Linked DNA regions of Homo sapiens. The protein of the gene in region 3 interacts with the protein of the main gene of each other region in a pairwise test. Each region holds a gene or a part of one and is shown on either strand. Other genes may lie near its edges. The genes, in order: PINK1, PEX1 and ZNF366.

What was found.
Region 1: the proteins of ZNF366 (region 3) and PINK1 interact in binary tests that used the Homo sapiens proteins (3 or more experiments, as listed by UniProt).
Region 2: the proteins of ZNF366 (region 3) and PEX1 interact in binary tests that used the Homo sapiens proteins (3 or more experiments, as listed by UniProt).

The regions. Positions count from the first base shown.
Region 1 is NC_000001.11:20,636,458-20,639,957, reverse strand, and holds part of PINK1 (serine/threonine-protein kinase PINK1, mitochondrial precursor), read right to left. Parts: intron 2,117-3,500; coding exon 1,829-2,116; intron 67-1,828; coding exon 1-66. UniProt on the Homo sapiens protein: Serine/threonine-protein kinase which acts as a sensor of mitochondrial damage and protects against mitochondrial dysfunction during cellular stress.
Region 2 is NC_000007.14:92,514,888-92,518,618, forward strand, and holds part of PEX1 (peroxisomal ATPase PEX1), read right to left. Parts: intron 3,369-3,731; coding exon 3,254-3,368; intron 3,156-3,253; coding exon 2,389-3,155; intron 1-2,388. UniProt on the Homo sapiens protein: Component of the PEX1-PEX6 AAA ATPase complex, a protein dislocase complex that mediates the ATP-dependent extraction of the PEX5 receptor from peroxisomal membranes, an essential step for PEX5 recycling.
Region 3 is NC_000005.10:72,497,378-72,501,108, forward strand, and holds part of ZNF366 (zinc finger protein 366), read right to left. Parts: intron 1-3,731. UniProt on the Homo sapiens protein: Has transcriptional repression activity. Acts as a corepressor of ESR1; the function seems to involve CTBP1 and histone deacetylases.

The DNA.
Region 1 (3,500 bases), on a different chromosome or scaffold from region 3:
CACTCGGCTCGCTGGGACCAGCTCCTGGCTCATTGTGTTCAAGATGGCTTCGCTGGAGGAACCTGCCTGGAACACCCACAAGGAACCCAGGGTTACACAGGCCGGAGCAGAATGGTAAGTTCCTTGTAAGCCCTGCCTGTAACCTGGAGCAGGGCAGCTACTGCCTAGAATTGGCTCTGACCTTCGAGATAAGATGACCTGTCTTAACTGGCAGGCTGAGACTAGTTACTCCTGGGAGGCAGACAGAGGTACCATCCATGCCAACTCAGAGGATTCTTCACACTCCTCAAACTCTTGCAGCCTAGATGCCAGGGCTGGAGGAGATGCCAAGGTGATCAGGATATGGGGTGCTGCTTCCTGCCATCGGTGCCTCTGGTCCCCACCAGTTCAAAATTGACCACTGGATCACTAACTCATTCTGCAGGCTCCCTTCAGCAGCCAGGCCAGAGCCTGACATGCTCCACCCTGGGTGAAGTTGTACTGAATCACAGAACAGCCTTCCTCCATCCCCCACGACAAACAGACAAAAACCAAAGAGTGGGGAAAGCACCTTATTGTCCTCATTGTATTGGGAAGGGCTCTCAGGACATATGAAACCTGTATCAAGAAGATCTGGTAAGAATCAACAATCTTGTAGCTGCTGTGAATGCAACAGCTGTCATGCCCCAACCAGGGCATGTTTTGATGCTAAGACTGGATGTTTCACAGGCAAAGGATTTGGCTACTTGTTAGCTATTAACCCAGCTTGGAGTGCAACAGTCTAATAACCTTCATTCCCCAAATCAGAACAAGAAACTGCATCCTCTAGGGCCCACCATGAACGGCTGTGGCCACTTCCCACTGCGGCCTTGAATGGATGGGCCCAGGGATGGGCAGGAGACAGAGCATCGGGTCTTAATACATTTTTAAAACCTACCTAGCAATGGCAAGGTAAATAAATTAAGTGGACAGAAATTGTTTTCGTGGGGGAAAAATACTCTTCAATTTCCCAAAGTCTTGAGTCCTTCCAAGAGTTGAGAGTAGGGAGTTGACATGCAAGCCTCTGAGCTGGAGGTGGGCTTGCAGAGTGAGCTTAAAGGAAAGAGATCCAGTTCCCCCTCTCCAGTGAGGCAGGTTGCAGGAAGGAGGGGATGGTGAACTAACCAATCAAGGTAGAAATCAGTGGTTTAGGCACTTGTTACTCAAAGTGTGGTTGACAGAGCAGTGGCATTGGTATCACGTGGGAGCTTATTGGGAAGGCACAATCTTAGGCCCCATCCCTGACCTGCTGAATCAGAATCTACCTTTGGGTTTTTTTTGTTTGTTTGTTTTGTTTTGAGACAGGGTCTTACTCTGTTACCCAGGCTGGAGTGCAGTGCCACAATCTTGGATCACTGCAGCCTCTGCCTCTTGCACTCAAGTGATCCTCCCACTTCAGCCACCAGCCACCCAAGTAGCTAAGACTACATACAGGTGCAAGCTGTCACACCCGGCTAATTTTTGTATTTTTCATAGAGATGGGGTTTCATCATGTTGCCCAGGCTGGTCTCAAACTCCTGAGCTCAAGTGATTGGCCTCCCAAAGTGCTGGGATTACAGGCATGGTCCACCAGGCCTGGCCAAAATCTACCTTTGAACCTGATCTCTGGGTGATCTGTGGGCAGAATACAATTTCAAACATTCTGGTTTAGACTTCTGTGTAACAGGGGGAGGTAACCTGACTATACAGGCACCTTTCCTGTGGATAATCTGTCTTTTCCTACCTACTTCCTGGAAAAAATCCTCACCAGGCCCACTAAGATGGGCATTTTGAGAACATCTCCTTTAAAGATGAAAGGCCTGGTGCTTACCGAGATGTTCCACATCATCTTGATGGCCAAGGGGAAGGCAGGGGCCCCCGGAGCTCGCTCCTGCCCTTCTCCTGGTGCACTGGTACCTGGGCCTCTCCCTGGAAGCAACCCGGTGCTCTTTGTCACCTCCAGGTTCTGGGGCAATGTAGGCATGGTGGCTTCATACACAGCAGCACTGCAGCCCTTACCAATGGACTGCCCTATCAGATACTCCTCCAGCCGAAAGCCCTGCAAGCGTCTCGTGTCCAACGGGTCAGGCCCCGGCTTGCTTTTCTGGGTAAAAATTGCCTGTGATGAGAAAAGAATGCACCGTGAGCCAGGGAGCCTAGGAAGGCCCAAGAAAAGGGAAACAGGGGAGGCAGAGAGAGGTGCAGCAAGGCGTGGTCCACGTCGACCAGATCAATAAACCAGAAAAACACAACCCAACCAGGTTCTACTGCTCAGCCTGGGTCCAGGCCATCTTCTTTCTCATTATTCAGAATGATTTTTCTCAAACTCTGTTGCTTCACTGGGATCACAATACTCAATGATCTGAGAGGTCAGAAACCCCACGTCCCGCAGCCAGTGCACCTCTCCTTGCTGCCTTCACTCTCCAGCAGAGTTCTGGAGGTGTCTGATTATGGAGACAGCTCGCTCTGCAAAGACCTTGGCTGACGGCTCCTGGGCAACTAGCAGGAGTGTGTGATCCACAGTGATCTCAGAGGGTCTCTCAGGCAAGTGGGTGACATCAGGCGCATCCCCAGAGCAGAGGGATTCAGTACTGTCTTTCTCTCTCTGCCTCTTAGGGCCCCGATGAGGCTACTCTGTCCAGAAAGGTAGCAAGAGTACAAGAGTTCAGACAGAAATAGATGGAGGTGCAGGTGCTGGGGGCAGTGCTGCACTGGGAAAGAGGCCATGTGACAAAAATCTGGTGGGTCTTCCCCTGCTTCAGGCAGCGGTGACGTCACTCTTCCAGTCACCCAGGCTCCGCTTTCCCTCTCAAATGGTCTGATCTGCTGAGCTCTTCCTTTCCAAGGTTAGTCACCCCTGGGTGCCAGGCACAGCTCTGCATATGCCCCTTGGCCATAGCCTACCAGGCACCATCTCTAGACTACCCCACTCTCAGTGCCGTGCCTTCCCTGCTCTGAGCCACATCAAAATATGTTGCTTTCATGTGTCACTCGGCTGTCCATCAGACTGCCCAGGAGGTTATCTGTGTTCTGGCTGCTGCCAGGCTGGTCTGCACGCTGCCTGCACTCATCCTTTGGACGCCTCCCTCTGAAAGCTGCTCACAGCATCCTTCCAGCCCCTGTTTCTATAGTATTGCTCTGTCTGGCTCATCCCTGCTCAGCCATCAAGCCCAACTCAAGCTCCTCCTTCCTCTGTGACCAGCCCTGATGACCCAGCCCATGGCAACTTTCCTTCTAGAGGGTTCCTAAAGCACCTGCTATCTGTAAGCAACTTAACCTTGCACTATAACTTTGAACCTTTTAAAAAAATGAAAGTCCAGGCCGGGCGTGGTGGCTCATGCCTGTAATCCCAGCACTTTGGGAGGCCGAGGGAGGCGGATCATGAAGTCAGGAGTTCAAGACCAGCCTGGCCAACATAGTGAAACCCCGTCTCTACTAAAAAATACAAAAAATTAGCCGGGTGTGGTGGTGTGCACATGTAATCCCAGCTACTCAGGAGGCTG
Region 2 (3,731 bases), on a different chromosome or scaffold from region 3:
AAAACTACAAAAATTAGCCAGGCGTGGTGGTGGGAGCCTGTATCCTAGCTACTCGGGAGGCTGAGGCAAGAGAATCGCTTGAACCTGGGAGGCAGAGCTTGCATTGAGTGGAGATCGCCACCACACTCCGGCCTGGGCGACAGAGTGAGACTCCGTCTCAAGAAAAAAAAAAAAATTATCTATATATATATATATATATATATATATATATATATATATATATATATATATATATCAATAATGATGTTAAAAATTTTTCTCAACTTCCCAAATATAAGTAAGCACTGAAAGACATAAAGACGACTTTACTCTCTATTAACTTCTAAAGAGCAGGTGCAGACATATTAATGGTAGACAAAAGCATAAATAAAAACTCTAAGGTACATATTCTGACTTAAAGAGAATTTAACAATCAAGTTTCCTGTTTGTTTGTTGTTTTTTTTTAATCACCATGCTTCACAGGGTAATAAAGGTTCAAGTTAACATGAATTTGTTAGTTGTATCACCAAGTGATCAATTTTGATCTCTCAAGCCAAGTCCATTTTAGTACCTGATTTCACCTACTGTGACTTCTCATTGTCCATGGCTCTTCAACCTTCAGTGGAGTGGGAAGGGCGGAGTCCTTATTGCTATCTTAATCACAGGACTTTACCATCAGCACTTCTCCCTGTTCTCACCATATAATTTCAAGGAAATAAAAGGATATTCCCATCTAATGACAGAACCAGCTAAATCATAAGCTCAGTGTTAGATATTTTGAATTTGAGGATGCAGTGGGATCTCCTGAACGGACAGTTTAAAGCTAACAGAAAATAATGATCTGAGGCCAGGCACAGTGGCTCACGCCTGTAATCCCAGCACCTTGGGAGACTGAGGCAGGCGGATCACTTGAGACCAGGAGTTCAAGACTAGCCTGGCCAACATGGTGAAACCTCGTCCCTACTAAAAATACAAAAATTAGCCAGGAGTGGTGGCGCACACTTGTAGTCCCAGCTACTCTGAAGGCTGAGGCAGGAGAATCATTTGAACCTGGGAGGTGGAGGTTGTAGTGAGTGGAGGTGGTGCCACTGCACTCCAGCCTGGGCAACAAAGCAAGCTTCTAACTCAAAAAAAGAAAAGAAAAGAGAAGAGAAGAGAAGAGAAGAGAAGAGAAGAGAAGAGAAGAGAAAAAAGAAAAGAAAAGAAAAGAAAAGAAAAGAAAAGAAAAGAAAAGAAAAGAAAAGAATGGTCTGGAGCTTTAGAAAATGATGTAGGCCGGCCAGGAGCAGTGGCTCATGCCTGTAATCCCAGCACTTTGGGAGGCCGAGGCAGGCAGATCACCTGAGGTCAGGAGTTCCAGACCAGGCTGGCTAACATGGTGAAACCCAGTTTCTACTAAAAATACAAAAAATTAGCCAGGCGTGGTGGTGCATGCCTGTAGTCCCAGCTACTCAGGAGGCTGAGGCAGGAGAACCACTTGAACGTGGGAGGCGGAGGTTGCAGTGAGCCAGATCATGCCACTGCACTCCAGCTTGGGCAAGAAGAGTGAAACTCCATCTTGTGGAAAAAAAAAATAGAAAAGAAAATGATGTAGGCCAAAGAGATTAATGCTTTGTCAGTTATTTGTATAAAGGTCACAGGTAAAACTGTTGGAGAAAAAAAAAAAATCTACAAAAGGAGACAACCTTCTCTTTCTATTTTATTCTCTTTCCTAACAAGTTCCTCTCTTTATCACTATGAAGTCTTACTTTACAGTGGTTCAAATTTAGGTTCCAATAAATGGACTAGTGACTTATGTCATATAAAGGTAGCATTAATATTTGTGGCCAGGATGAGGGGCTGGAGCACTAGTTGCCCTGTCTACTTCCTCTCCGTTATACACAAATTAAAGAGCAGACACCGGCAGGGTAAGCAGCTCCTGGATGCATTCCAATCCAGGTGCCACCACATGCAGCAGGAAGGTTACCTCATGCCATGGATCTCTCCCTACACTGGCCCTTTTCCCTAATATTAACAAGTTGCTTTCGGTAACTGGGGAACAAATCTGCAAGCATTAAAGATGGGAGGCTTTGTAGGGCACTCCATCCTGATGAACCCCCAAGTCAATCTGCCTGGGTTTGAATCCTAGTTGTAACACTAGCTATGCAATCTCAGGCAAGTAATTTTGACCTCTCTGGCCTGAACCTATCTAAGCTTGTACCTATTCAAGCTTACTTGGCCAGAAAACATACAATCTTTATCCAAACAAGGACTTTACTGCAAAGCGTAAATGTGTCCCCCAAGTGCCTTTAGGCACTGTGTTTCTTTTTAATTGATTTTCAATTTATATATGAAATACTATTCTAATTCATAATTTGGGGATGTTTAAGCCACATAAAATTTCTCCCAAGTTATAAAATTTATACTAACCCAGACTTTCCCAAGATGGAGAACTTCTACATTTTTGGTATATTTGATGGCATTGTTCAATTCTTCAAGTCCATTCCAGACTACTTGTAGCACACAGGCCTTCTCATCTTCTTCATTATGATCTGACCTAATTTTTTTTTGATCTAGTGGCTCTGACATCTGCTTCTCTTTTTCAGGTGATAACACATTTTGTTTTGTTTTACTTTGCTGTTGCTTTGGAGAAAGTAGCTTAACTAGCTTTCCATATGTCACAGTAAAGCTGGGCTCTACATCAAAATATTCCTGGTCCCATGGAAATACATGAATGGCACAGTGTTTATGAAAAACAGAGGTTGCTGACGCGTTATATATACTAGGAGGTTGAGATTTGCATACTCTGAAAATATTGTCTAGAGGAACAACCTTTGACTGCATATTTTTGAATGCATTGATTTCAGTTAAACCCCAAGATGTCTCTTGTTTCTTCTCAGATTGAAAGGAAAAAATGCTTCCTATCATAGTCCATAAACTTGCTACTGATGATGAGTCAACTGGAATCTCTGACTCGTTTTCATTAGATTCAGTGATTCCCACAGTATTTGACTGAAGTTGCTTGGTTTGAAGTTCTTTCATCATTCCTTTCTGGTCTCTTCCATAACTATGAAGTTTTTTATATTCAGCATCAGCTTTTGAAAATGTATTCTCTTTGGCTCGGCGTGTCTTTGGCTGAATAAGGAGTTTGGTGTCAGTTTCCAGCCTTCCATAAGAGGCAGCTGGTATTAGTGCAACTGTGTAGAAAATAAAGCTCATTAGTGCACATTCATTTCTACTTTGGACTCAATGCTATAGTGTAGAATATGACAGCAAATATTACAATAGCACCTACCAATTTGGATAAATATGTACGTTTGTTGATCAACCCAAACAGGAAAAATGGCTTTTGGAAAAACTATTCGAATTTGATCTAGAAGATGTTGTTCAAGGGAAACAGCATGCAGCTCCTAGAACCAACAGACGAAAAGATCAATTCACTTTACATTTTGTCCACTCCATATCTAGTTAAAAAAAATCTCAATTCTTTTTTTAAAAAACAAATTTTAATGTGCATATTTAATATACACGACATGGTGTTATGAGCTACATATAGATAGTATAATGGTTACTATAGTGAAGTAAATTAACATATACATCATCTCACAGTTACCCACTTTTGTGTTTTTGTGGTAAGAGTAGTTAAAATCTACTCATTTAACATGAATCCCCAATACAATTTTATTACCTATAGTTGTCAGGTTGTACATTAGATCTCTATCAATTCATTCTTTTTTTATTTGAGACAAGGTCTCACTCTGTTTTCCAGACTG
Region 3 (3,731 bases):
GTACCATTTGTTTAAAAGACTATTTTCCCCTCATTGACACCTTTGTCAAATCAATTGAACATATACTGAGAGTCCATTTCTGGACTCTATTATGTTCCCTCATTTAGTAGGTCTGCACAATATTCCATTGTACAGATGCCCTGTACTAATTTAACCAGTCTGTTATTAATGGACAATTGTGCTATTTCTAATTATTTTCTGTCCAAATAATGCTGTGGCAGATACATTGCATTGTAGGTATGTCTTTTTACATCTTATTTATATAGGATAAATTCAAGAGGAGTCAATGTTACATTTTGATAGACATTCACAAATTGCTGTCTGTAGATGTTCTGCTAATTCAGTTACACCAGAAATATCTGAGAGCTCTCTCCAGAACCCCAGAGATAAGTGTGTTAACAAATGTTTCATCTTTGCCGATCAAGTAAATAAAAATTGGTATCTCATAGTTTTAATTTGCTGCTTCTTATTATGAATTAAAATATCTTTTATTTTGTGCATGTTTATAAGCCAACTATATTTCATTTTATGTGAAGTATGTGTTTCATGTCATTTGCTCATTTTTCTGTTTATACTAAGCTCTTTGTGATACATGTTGCAAATGCTTCCTCCATTTTTTGTTTTGTTTGTCTTTTGGCTTTGTTTATTGAGTTTTGGCCCTGCAGAAGCTTTTTATTGTAATGCAATAAAATGCATGATAAATGTTAAGGCCTCTGCGTAAAACTAGAAAGGCCCTTCCTACTCTGCGATTCGAAAAAAAAATATCTCTACAGTTGTTATGTTTTCTTTAAGACTTTTTAAAGCAAAATTTTAAGTTCACAGTATATTTTTATTTTTAACATTTTAAGTCTTTCATCTATCTGGAATTTATTTTAATTTAAAAAATCAAGTAGGAATATAAGTTTATTTTTTTCCCAAATAGCTACCCAGTTGTCCCAATCTCATTAATTACATAATTCAACTTTCTCCGCTGATATACATGTTATTTTTATCATGTACTAAATTCCCATATACATTTTAGTTCACTGATCTGCCATCCATTCATGTGTCAGTACACACACTCAATCCTCTATTCTCTGACTCCAAGTAGCATTCTTTCCTGCGTTACTCACATTCTCAAAACAACACACAGTAAGTGAATGAAGTGCTTTATGAATTGCTAGTAGTAACACTTAAATCTTCTCTCATTTTCTCCCTGCCCCCACTAGCTAACAATATTCAAACTCTTTTTAACATCACTAAGAAAAATATAATTAGGACAGTAAATCTGTTTGGAAGTTTAAGAGATTGAACATCAGATACTACATTCTTGAGTCAAACAATTTGGGGCTAACCCATTGGCTCATAATCTTTTATAACAACCAGTGATTTTGGGTAGGCAGTGTGTGTATGTATACACAAGTGTAAGGTACATGTACCATGTACCTAGCGATAGCACTTCAGCAAACCACTGCTCCTCCCAAAATATCCATATTGCTTGAAGAGCAAATACATTTGGCATTTTATGTCCTAATCCTTCTGAAATGGGATTTTCTCACCATTAAATGTCCTTCCCAACTGCATGTATTAAAGATGTGATGCTGAAATTTCTCTCCTAGGAGACTCAAGGGGGAAAAGAGTCAATGTCAGTCATTCTAAATAGTGGGATGTGTCTGAACATATGGAGGATGTGAAGACACATGGAATGGGACTGCCTTCTGCAAAATGATGCAGTTTTGAGCAGAACTTTGTTACCCACAAAACTGGTGTCTCTATTCCTTCACAAACATCCCCATTTAGATCTGAGGCCCAGGCTGCCACCAGAAGAACTCTCTGCCCCTGGAGACTTCTCCCCAGCCAGAGACAGGTGATTGTGCCATGAAATCACTGGGTGCTAGGAGGGCTGCAGACCATGTTGGAGGAAACGCCTGCTTGCCTGCTGCATCACTGATTGTTTCCTGAATATCAAGAAAGACGATGCTGGGAATAGTCCCTCCTTGCCCAGATCTCTGAAAAGCCAGGTAGGAGGTGAGATTCTGGATATGCCTGCCAGCAACCTTTCAGAACTTTTCACATATTCCTCACCCTAAGAATTCAAATTCTAGCACTTCAGGAATCCTGCCTTTTTTTTTTTTTTTTTTTTTTTGAGACGGAGTCTCGCTCTGTCACCAACCCCGCCTTTATAGATTAAGCATAGAACTCTTTGGTACCCTAAAAATGTTCAATATATAGATTTTTTAGGATAATGCTAGAAGACCCTTCTTTGTACTTAAAAAAGAAAAAAACAACTGAAAAAGTTCTCTGGAAGTAGGGGTGAGAGGAGGAAATTCCACCGTGTCGTGGGAAAGAAAATGCCTGAACTAGAAAAACAGCAAGAAACAAGTGGTGGACACTATGGAGGTAGGCGTTCCATTAAACAGCGCTGAAAACCTGAAATTCCTCATCTCCCTGCACTTTCCATGGAAGGTGGCCAGAGGGCCTCAGTCACGGGAGAGATGCCATGGGCTCCATCCAGGCAGAGGCCCCATTTTGTCCAGGCTTCAGCAAACCAGAGGCGATTCCGGTCCTCTCCCTCGCTCTCTTCCGGCGCTGCTTCCTTCCCCCACCCCTCCAACAATAGTCTCCTCTTGATTTCTGTTCCAAGAGAGAACGGTGAGTCCCCAGTGCAAAGGAAACTCTAAGGATTCTTTCCACAGAGTTTTCTCACTGGGAAGAGGGAGGCGTGTGGACTGGCGTCTCCTCTTTGGCTGTGATGCTGGAGAAGCGGGTCCTCCCTTTCTCCCTGAGGAAGACACAGGGCAGACAGCAAGATTTCTCATCCTTATTCTCAAGCATTCAAAGGAAGAAAGCGGCAGAGTACGTTTTCTTCCTGGAAGAACTCTGCGGTGCCCTAATGTGTGCACTATGGTTTTAAATGTTTTTTTCAAGCTACTGAAAAAAGCTAAACTATTTTTTAGGGTAATCTGCCTGAAATACTCATCACTACCCTCCCTGGGGGCTTCCTTACCCTGAGCCAGCAGCTTGAATAATAAGCAGAGCCTTGGTCCCCTCTTCAGCTTTGTTAGATCTGGGGAAAGGCCTAGAAATCTGCCCCAGGTAACTCTGATGATTGGTGCTCAGAAAGCACCTGAAAATAATACCCTCGCCCTTTCTGAGAGTGCTAGGATCCCATGATATGGAGTTAACTTCATGGGAGAGATCACAGAAATCATGCCTACTGTTGCTCAGAGCTGAATAGATTGGAGACTTGTCCAGTAATGCCACTATTTAATAGGGAGGTATGTTGTCTTGGACAAGGTCAAAGTTAACAAATGGCTTTGTAACTCCTTGGAATAGAGTCCTACATTCCCTGATCAATCTGTGTGCAACAGTCCAAAACCATAAGGCAGTGCTGCTCAGACTTGAATGTGCAACTGGTCACTTGGAGATCTTGTTAAAATGCTGATTCTGATTCAGTTGATCTGCAGTGGAGCTGGGATTTATTCTGCATTTCTAACAAGCTCCTAGGTGGTGCCATGGTGTTGGTCTTTGGACCCCATTTGAAGGCTACTACCTTAAAGGATACATATTTGTTTTAAAGAAATTATTAGCTACAGATGACACTTTTTCCTTATAAGGAAACTGAAAACAAGCAACATTAATTTACTGACCTTGAGCAAATCACGTACTTTCTGTAGTTTATCTGTTAAACAAGGTGGTTGCCTTTCTTCAGCTCTAAGATGAGGAGAATAAGGCACGTACTTGAGAATGGG